Regions from separate parts of the Homo sapiens genome. Here region 1 is linked to region 2. A link means that fine-mapping ties the variant in region 2 to the expression of a gene that starts in the linked region. Tissue or cell type: whole blood. Region 2 holds a variant in brackets; the other region holds the start of a gene. All regions are shown on one strand. Distances are from middle to middle.

What was found. PIP is the estimated chance that this variant, and not a neighbour inherited with it, causes the effect. A credible set is the group of variants that fine-mapping cannot tell apart.
Region 1: it holds the start of ZNF239, and the variant in region 2 is the best candidate, but not a certain one, in a credible set for the expression of ZNF239 in whole blood (INTERVAL, PIP 0.85).

Annotation. Positions count from the first base shown.
Region 1 is chr10:43,571,995-43,577,223 of GRCh38, reverse strand. ZNF239 (zinc finger protein 239) reads left to right here and starts at 2,608. Exons shown (of 4, transcript NM_001099282.2): 1 at 2,608-2,684; 2 at 3,547-3,587. RefSeq lists a silencer at 2,826-2,885.
Region 2 is chr10:43,523,373-43,528,601 of GRCh38, reverse strand. It overlaps a transcript of ZNF487 not described here and the pseudogene LOC100130881. Among named protein-coding and RNA genes, the nearest start is that of ZNF239, 49 kb to the left of the region's middle. The variant A/G (reference allele first, on the strand shown) is at 2,218.

The DNA.
Region 1 (5,229 bases), 49 kb before region 2:
AAATATGTGCATCTATTATATACCAATTTTTAAAATTAAGTTAAAAATTAAATTTTGGGTTTTGCATGTGAAAAAAGAGAGAATATGGGAGAAAAGAAATTGGAAACATCCCTTAGGGACAATTTTTTTAGGAGTTTTGCTGTAAAGCAAAGCAGAGAAATGAGGTAGTGGCTGGAGAGAAATAGGGTGCAAGGTAAGGGGTTTTATTTATTTTATGGACAATATTACAGTGTATTCATTAGTATGCTGATAATTCAGTACAGAATGAAAATCTTGAAATACAGAAGAGAGAGAAGGACCTCATTCATGAGAAAGCATTTAACATCCAGGGTGCAAAAGAATTTTCTCATATAGGAACTAGGGCCAGTGACTCAGAATGAAAAGTAGAGCATACAGTTTCTAATGCAGAGAGGAGGGCAGATGTGCCTGTGAGGCGGTATAGAAGTTCTCTTTACTCAGTAACAGAAAGCAAAGTCATCAGCACTCAGTGAGATGGGAGGAGTTGTTGGCGGCTTGAAAAGAGAGTAGAAGACCAGGCATGGTGGCTCAGCCTGTAATCCCAGCACTTTGGGAGGCTGAGGTGGGACGATCGCTTGATCCCAGGAGGTGGAGACCAGCCCGAACAACATGGTGAAACTTCATCTCTTAAAAAAAAAAATACAAAAATTAGCCTGGTGTGGTGGCGCAAGCCTATAGTCCCAGCTACTTAGGAGGCTGAGGTGGGAGGGTTGCTTGTGCCCAGGAAGCAGAGATTGCAGTCAGCCAAGATCGCACTACTGAACTCCAGCCTGGCTCAAAAAAATAAATAAATAAATAATGAAAAGAGAGTAGAACCTGTGAAATAGTCATTTAGGAGAATGGATGGACTAAGAAATGTAGAAGGATAGCCAGGCAGCGTGAAGGGCCCACTTGAACTTAATGGTTATAAACTGAAAATGAAACCAATCATCCCAGCCATGTGGTTTTCTCAAACAACCTCTGCCGTACAGGCGCAGGCCAGGAACTGGATTCAAGCAGATTTGGGTTTCCATCAAGAGAATAAAACCAAGAAAGACTGGGACAAGAGAGTTAAGGGTAACGGCACATACACAGGACTGGCCATAACCATGCTCCATGGCCTCTTAAATTGAGTGAGGAGAGAAGTGAGCACATGAGGAAGTGAAGGTCAGGGCAAGGGTGGTAAATCTAAATAGGGAAAAGCTCTGTGGTTTTCCAATGAAGAATGAGGAGAGGAGTAAGGTCCAAGGGAGACATTTTGTGTTCCCCAGGCAAAAGGTAAGACAGCATCTCTGAGGAGGAGACCGAAGGGGACGTGGGCCTCTCCAAGCATCGCAGGCTGAAAATAATAGTCCCCCAAATATGTCCATGTCCTAACCCCCAGAAGCTGTGGATGTTAATTTCTATGGCAAGAGGGATTTTTTTTGAAATGTGATTAAATTAAGGATCTTGACGTCAAGAGATTATCCCAGATTAGCCAGCTGGGCCTGATGTAATCACAACAGTCGTTATTAGAAGGACCCACGAGGAGCCAGTGCCTGAGCATGTGATGTGATGATGAAGGCAGAGGTTGCAGTCATGCACTTTGAAGATAAAGGAGCGAGCCATAAGCCAAGGAATGCAAATAGTCACTGGGAACTGGAAAAGGCAAAGAAATATTCTCATCTAGAACCTCCAGGAGGAACTAGCCCCACCAACACTGACTTTATAAAGCCCAGTAAAACTTGATTTCAGACTTGGCACCTCCAGAAGTTTAAGAGAATACATGTTTGTTATACTACTAAGTTTGTGTTAATTTGTTGTGACAGCAATTGGAAACTAATACACCAAGGAAGGGGGAGGATGTAGAAGAGAGGTCCAGGCAACATCTCTTTCCTCTCCAAAATAAATCTGAAAGAAAGGAATTGGGAAAAGACCAAATGGGTAGCTCTGTGTCACTCGGTGAGAAGTGAAATAAACGTAAAATCCTGGTATCAACAACCCTTGTGTGCGTTTAGGAGAGTTCTGACTGCTGGGAGCCACTTGTCTAATTCCCTCACCTCCTGTGTTTGTTCCAAGATCCCCTATTTAAAATTGCAAAGTACACCTCCAGTCCTACACACCCACAAACGCACCTCGCCACACCCCGCCCAGCTCTATGCTTTCAGTACCACCTCATGACACACACGACGCCATATATTTACTATATTTATGGATTGCTTGTTTCCCCAACTAGAATAGGGCAGTGACTTTTGTGCAAGCATCTTGAACAGCTCCTGGTACACAGTTGGCTCTCAATTAATATCTGTTAAATGGATGAACTTCAGAGGTGAGATGGAAGATGCCGAATGGCAAATATTCACTTCAGAATGTTTTGAAAGGTAAAGATGAAATTATGGGTATTTACATCCTTTTCCCCCAATAGTATTTTAACAAATGAAAATCACCTTAACAGGTATTCCTAAAATAATTCTTATTTGTTTGTAATAAAAAACGAGGAGGAGGACTTGAATACACGCGTCGCTGACTCAAAGATGGTCCCCTCCGCCCAAGAATCCCGCTCCGCACAGCGCAGAGTTCAGGGGCCCGCGCCGGAAGTGGGCGTGGTTCGCCCGCGGCTTGCTGGGACTTGTATTTCGGGGCCCTAGGCGCGCGAGCGGTCAGCATCCGGAATCTGGCCCCTGCAGGCGTGGGGTTCCACGTGGGAGGTGAGACTGGCCGGGCTTCCCCAGCCGCTGGCAGAGGCGTTCAGGGGTCAGGAAATGGGTGTGCCGCGGGTAAGGCGCTGGGCCGCCGAGCTGCGGAAGCCGGGAGGGCGGCGATGGTAGGGCACGCGACCAGCGGAGGCGCGGCCCGCGGCGGCACGTGTGTCCCGGCGCCGCATTTCCGAGCTGCTGCGCCCCCGGGGCCGGGCTGCGGCCACACCGAAGCCTGTGGGGCCCTGCAGCTGAGCGGCCGCGCCTCCGATGGCCCCTCCTCCCTCCTGGCCGAGCTCTGGCCTGGGCCGGCTGGGGGCTTCGTGGTTGGCCACGCCGGCCTTTTCCTCGCCTGTGACGGGCGTTATTGCAGGGGGGTTTTCGGTGGACGTTAGGCGACGGACGGGGGCTCCTGTAAGAGACTGAGGTTTCTGTCCGCAGCACTGCCTTCGCTGAAAAGAGCTTGCATCTGAGCCCCCGCACCGCAGGAACGAGCCAGGCTCCTGAGAATGAGGTCGGGGAAGGCGTCTTGGGCAACCGAAATCCATCCCGAGAAGCTTCTCCTCTTAACTAGAACTTTAGGACAGAGATCGGGAAAGTCAGAGGAAATGGGCACGGCTTCGAGCTGCCGGCGGCTGCGGAATTTACCTAGCCTCTTGGTTTTGGGGGGAAAACTTGGCTTGTTTAATCGAAAGCCCTGTGGAGAGAGATGAAGGTGGTGACAGAAAATGCTTCACCTCTCACCTGATGGAGGGAGTGTGGGTGGAAGTGACTGAAGAAGCGTCAGAGGCAGGAGCGGAGTAACTTTTTCCCCGCAGTCTTGCTGGACTTGATTTTCATGGCTTTTTCTCTTTCCCTAACTCTGCCTTTCCAGGAATCCATCCCCTCTGGGAGTAAGAAATGACCAGGGTCCGGGTGAGTTGGCGTTCCATTTCTCCTAAAATGCCATCTCCCTGAAATGTCCCTGTGCCATGTGTTGTTTTCTTTATTGTCAGGCCCCCAGTACGGTATTTTATAGCTATGGATGTAGGGACATTAAGATACTAAGGACATGTAGCTAGCAGATGATGTCACCAGGGTCTGCACAGAGAGTTTTCACTGGCCCATCCTGCCTCCAAGAATTTATTCCACTCCTCAGAGCAGTGGGCTGTGCCCTCCTGGGGAGCCTCTCAAAGCCTGCCTTTTCCTGCCAGACATTTCACTCACATTGAAAGTCATTCCAAGCTATTCCATACTCATCCCAGTGCTAAGTGGTCTCAGCAAAACAGATAGAATGATAAACCACGGTGCTTTTCTTCAAGGAGCTTACCATCTTGATGAACATATTATATTACCTGTACACAAAAAAATGCATATTAATAGTGATAATTTATTAACTATGAGTCAAAAACGAGGAAATTCGTTAAATGGCAGCACAGTGGTTACAAAATCACTCTAGAAATGCTTTTCAACTAGGCTATGCATCAGAACTCTCTGTGGTGTTTTTTAAGAACTAAGCTTCCTTCTCTCTTCCAGACCTAGTGAAAGGAGAGTTTCACTCCTTTTTTATTCTGTTGATCTTTGTACATCCAAAGGTTTATTGTGAAATATCTCTCTATACACTATAAGTGTCTCTAGGGTAGGTAAAATGAGTTATTCATCCTTTATACTCAGGTTGATTTGTTCTCTTTCACTAGCATGTCTACATATTTAACTGTTCCAGTAAATTTTAAATTACCAAGTCGTACTTTTTTAAAGAGAGTTTTCAGTTGTCCCCATAAAACCATCTGTAGGAGGTTACCTCAAAATTAACCCTTAGACTCCCAGGGTATTTGAGATGGTCAGCCCCCACTTAGAATCCCATGGTGTTTGAGATGGTCGGCCCCCTCTTTGCCCTGTCCTGGCGTTTTATGGTGGAGAGCTCTAACTCGGCTAACTCTGAGAGAGCCGAAGGAAAGTGCCTTGTCCTTTGTTTCAGAGAGCAGAAGGCCAGAAATAAACCCCGTGTTTTCTTCCTTCAGGCTGTTCTTTCTCCATTAACTAAACAGGTCATCACATCAGAAGTTGTTTGAATAAAATATCAGACTGCGTTTTAAGGGAAAAAAAATGTTTTTTAACACTACCAGCAAAGGCCATCTTTTTGCTTGGCAAATACAGCCCTCACACACATGAGCTCTTAGAAAAAATCTGTTTAGAGGACAGTAAGCTGACTTGAGGTACTGAGAGCATGGCTTCTCTGTGCCCTGAAAAGTAATTGAGGACTTCAAGGGAGATTAACCTTAGTAGAATCAATACATTTTCCTTCCTTCGCTTCTGCCTGCTCCCTAATGATTAAGTATTCACTGCCGCTGCAACTGGGGATTGCCAGTTTAGTAAATTTTGAGATTCTGGTGTGTGTTACACAACAACTTTTTTAATTTAAAGGAAGGACTTCATTCCAAGCATTGTGTGTTTTCTATGTACCACACATTGTCCTTAGGTCTGCTGAAAGGCGGGAGTCTTAGTTAACCCTGCTTTTCCTCTGTGACATTGGGTAAGTCACTTCGCCCTTATGAACTGTGGTTTTTTTCTCTGTAAA
Region 2 (5,229 bases):
CCTAAAACCATAAAAAACCCTAGAAGAAAACCTAGGCAATGCCATTCAGGACATTGGCATGGGCAAGGACTTCATGACTAAAACACCAAAAGCAATGGCAACAAAAGCCAAAATTGACAAATGGGATCTAATTAAACTAAAGAGCTTCTGCACAGCAAAAGAAACTACCATCAGAGTGAACAGGCAACCTACAGAATGGGAGAAAATTTTTGCAATCTACCCATCTGATAAAGGGCTAATATCCAGAATCTACAAAGAAGTCAAACAAATTTACAAGAAAAAAAACAAACAACCCCATCAAAAAGTGGGCAAAGGATATGAACAGACACTTCTCAAAAGAAGACATCTGTCTGGGTGCGGTGGCTCATGGCTGTCATCCCAGCACTTTGGGAGGCTGAGGCGGGTGGATCACGAGGTCTGGAGATCGAGACCATCCTGGCTAACATGGTGAAACCCTGTCTCTACTAAAAATACAAAACAAAAAAAATTAGCTGGGCATGGTGGCAAGCGCCGGAGGCTAAGGCAGAAGAATGGCATGAACCCGGGAGGCAGAGCTTGCAGTGAGCCAAGATCACGCCACTGCACTCGAGCCTGGGCAACAGAGCAAGACTCCGTCTCAAAAAAAAAAAAAAAAAGAAGACATCTATGCAGCCAACAGACACATGAAAAAATGCTCATCACCACTGGTCATCAGAGAAATACAAATCAAAACCACAATGAGATACCATTCTTGCCAGTTAGAATGGCAATCATTAAAAAGTCGGGAAACAACAGATGCTGGAGAGGATGTGGAGAAATAGGAACACTTTTACACTGTTGGTGGGAGTGTAAATTAGTTCAAACATTGTGGAAGACAGTGTGGCGATTCCTCAAGGATCTTGAACTAGAATTACCATACGACCCAGCAATCCCATTACTGGGTATATACACCCAAAGGATTATAAATCATGCTACTATAAAGACATATGCACACATATGTTTATTGTGGCACTATTCACAATAATAAAGACTTGGAACCAACCCAAATGTCCATCAATGATAGACTGGATTAAGAAAATTTGGCACATGTACACCATGGAATACTATGCAACCATAAAAAATGATGAGTTCATGTCCTTTGCAGGGACATGGATGAAGCTGGAAACCATCATTCTCAAAAAACTATCACAAGGACAGAAAAGCAAACACCACATGTTCTCACTCATGGGTGGGAATTGAACAATGAGATCACTTGGACACAGGAAGGGGAACATCACACACCAGGGCCTGTCAGGGGATGGGGGGCTGGGGGAGGGATAGCATTAGGAGAAATACCTAATGTAAATGATGAGTTGATGGATGCAGCAAACCAACATGGCACATGTATACCTATGCATCAAACCTGCACATTGTGCACATGTACCCTAGAACTTAAAGTATAATAAAAAAAAAAAAGAAGAAATCCACTACAGAAGGAACCAAGGAATTTAAGCATCAAAATTCCCACCTGCCCCCCACCATTTTTTTGTGAGCCCAGGATGGCTTTGAACTCCCAGGCTCGAGCAATCCTCCCCAGTCAGCCTCCAGATAATTACAGGCATGAGCTACCAAGCCTGGTTCATCTTCTCTGATTTTTCTCAATGTCACTTGAGTCTTTTGTGGCCCACACTAGTTAGGGGAATAGCCTGATCATCTGGCCAGATCTAAACTGAAATATCTGATGAGGCAGCTATATTTGGAGGGGCTGACCTGAGATATAGAAGATTAAGATCTGGTACTGAGGATTCAGGCTTGTAAGGGAAAGCTTCGAATGCAAATTATATGCACCCTAATTTTTTTTAACCGATTCTTTCTTCTGGTTATAATTTACTTTTTTTGGAGATTGCATATATTTACACTTATTTGCTAGGTGCTTGTATTTCTTTTCTGAATTGCCTTTTCATCTTGATGGTGTATTTTTTGTTCAGTCACTTAGAATAAAAATTCAAGTGTGAAGAAAGAAAAATACTTTAAGGCTTAGAAATGTAACCTTTTGCTTTATTTTAGAAATTTTTATTTATATGATTATGCATTTCCTAGATACTAGTTCTTTCTGTTCAAGGCCATTTACTCCAACACCCAAGTGGATTTCTTGATTGCAGATTTATTACTATAGGATGTATTTGGGTAGAATTATTTCTTCCCATTATACTGGCCTTATTCACACTTCTGTGCTTTAACACAATGAAAAATTGCTTT[A/G]ACATTGAAGTTCTGTATTGAGTCCCACAAGATATTATTCCCTTACAGCGCTTGTATTGTAAGCTGCAAACTGAACATTTGAAAAATCAAAATGAAAGCATGTAGCATAAAGGTCTGCCTTTTTTTTTTTTTTTTTTTTGAGACAGAGTCTCACTCTGTCGCCCAGGCTGGAGTGCAGCAGAGCGATCTCGGCTCACTGCAAGCTCCGCCTCCCAGGTTCACGCCATTCTCCTGCCTCAGCCTCCTGAGTAGCTGGGACTACAGGGACCCGCCACCACGCCTGGCTAATTTTTTTTGTACTTTTAGTAGAGACAGGGTTTCACCGTGTTAACCAGAATGGTCTCGATATCCTGACCTCGTGATCTGCCCACCTCGGCCTCCCAAAGTGCTGGGATTACAGGCGTGAGCCACGGCGCCCAGCCAAATGTCTGCCTTTGAAGGATAATGGCGTGCATGTAAGGTGCTGTTAAAAAGTATTGATTGCATTAGCAGCACCTTGATTTTAGCACAGAGGTCAGCAAATTAGTGGCTGTAGGCCAAGTCCAGCCCGCTGCCTGTCTTTGTAAGTACTTTTTTTTTAACCTTTAAGCTCTGTTGGACTTGAGTAAGTAAAGTTTTACGGAACACAGAAAATAAAATAAAATGAAATAAAAAATAAAAATAAAGCACACTCACACAACATTATGACACTTTGCATTTGTATTTGGTGTATTTATGACTATTCGACCTAATTGTGCTTTTTGAAGTTAGATTCCTAGTACACAGTATGTCTGTAACTGAATATTTTCAATAAAATTTTGGTATATCAGAAACAAGAATTTTAGTATAATATTTCTAAAGGAAGTTTTTAGTCTCAATTACCAAACTGACATTTCCAGTGAGCTAAAATCTCTCATGTATAACCAAAACTGAATCATTTTCAAAGTTACAACTTATTCAAAATATTCGTAAGATGTTTCAAATATCAAATATCTGCTGCTCACTAAGATGGCCCTTTATTTCTGGGCAAAATATTTCTCATACTTACAAAGTTTCTCCCCTTCACTGTTTTTAATGTAAACTGAGTAGGTTAAGTAAGAAAAGGTTTCTGGACTTTCAGAAGATGCTAACAGGGACTTCTCTCTGTACTTTCTCAGATTAGTGAATTCTGATAAAAGGCTCTCCACATTTGTAGATTCACAGGATTTCTGCCTTCTGTGTGTTTTCTGATGTGCTATAAGTGATGACTTCTGGTAGAAAGTCTTCTCACATTCATTACATTTGTAGGGTTTCTCTCCTGTGTGGGTTCTCTGATGTACTGTGAGGGATGACTTGTGGTAAAAAGTTTTGCTGCATTCATTATATTTATGAAGTTTCTCTCCTGAGCTCTTTGATGTTTAGTAAGTGCTGATTTCTGGTTAAATGTTTTGCTGCATTGAATACATTTATATGGCTTCTCTTTTTATGTCTTTTTTGATGTACAGTAAGGGATAACTTCTGGGAAAAACTTTTCCCACATGCATTACATTTATATGGTTTCTCCCCTGTGTGTGTTCTCTGATGTACTGTAAGAGATGACTTCTGGGAAAAGGTTTTCCCACATTCATTACATTCATAGGGTTTTTCCCCTGTGTGAGTTCTCTGATGCACAATAAGTTTTGACTTCACTGAGAAAGACTTCCCACATTCATTACATTCACAGGGCCTTTCTCCAGTATGAGTTCTCTGATGATAAGTGAAGTCTGGCTTTTGTGAGAATGTTTTCCCACATTCGTTACATTAATAGGGTCTTACACCTATGTGTATCCTTTGATGTACTATGAGGAATGAATTGTAAACAAAGGTTTTTCCACATTCTTTACCCTCATGGGATTTCTCCCCTGTGTGAGTTCTCTGATGTACTTGGAGATATGACTTCTCACAGAATTTTTTCCCACATTCACTACACTCATTGGGTTTATCACCTGTGTGTGTTCTCTGATGTACTGATGTACTGTAAGGACTGACTTATATCTAAAGGCTTCCCTTCAGATATAAGTCACATAACCTAATGACACTTTGCATTTGTATGTATCGAATGTGCATGACACATTCAATACATTCTTAGGGTTTTTGCCCTGTGTGTATCTGCCAATGAACTGTAAGGCCTGACCTATTTGTGAAGGTTTTCTCACATTCAGTACATTCATAAAGTTTCTCCCCTGTGTATATCCTATTATGTACTATGATAGATGAACTGTGGCTGAGAGCTTTCCCACACTCATTACATTCATAGAACTTTCCTCCTACGTGTGTTTGCTGATGTTTAGGGAGAACTGACATATGCCAAAAAGAACTCCCATAATGACTATTTTGAAAGGTTTTCTTTTCTGCGTATGTATGCTGTTGAGAGAGACTTGGTTTCTTAAAGATTTCCCTACCTTCATTACATTCAAAGCTTGTTTTTCCTTTTTGAGTTCTTTCAGTGTCAATAAAGAGTGACTTTTGCCAAAATTATTCTCACACTCATAGTATTTTTTCCCCATGATTCCTCCATGGTGTTTATTTAGAGATTTCTCACCAACAGACCTCCTCCCACAGCAATTAAACTCGTAGTGATTTTCCCTTCTGTGAGTACTCTGATGAACAAGGAGGTTTGGATTGTCAGAAAAGGCTCTTAGTTGTTCATTATATTCACAAGGTTTCTCCCAGAAGCACACTCTCTTATGGGTACTGAAGGCTGCCTCCTCATGAAAAGCTTTCCCACACTCAAGGTATTCAAAAATTTGCTTCAGAGTTTGAATATCCTGATGCTGAAATAAGTCCTCATTCTAACAGATGGCTTTCTCATTTCTGTCACACTCAAAATGTTTCTCTCTGGCATAAGGATGCTCATGTCATATGAAGGAGCAATTTCGCATGTGCACTGAGCTCATCAAGCTTCCTTCCAAAGGAGTTTCTATTACTAACAATTAATTCTGAAATATAATTCACGTTCATTATACATAAGTCATATTTATCAGGTATTTTTCTCATTGGAACAAGGTTTGAATT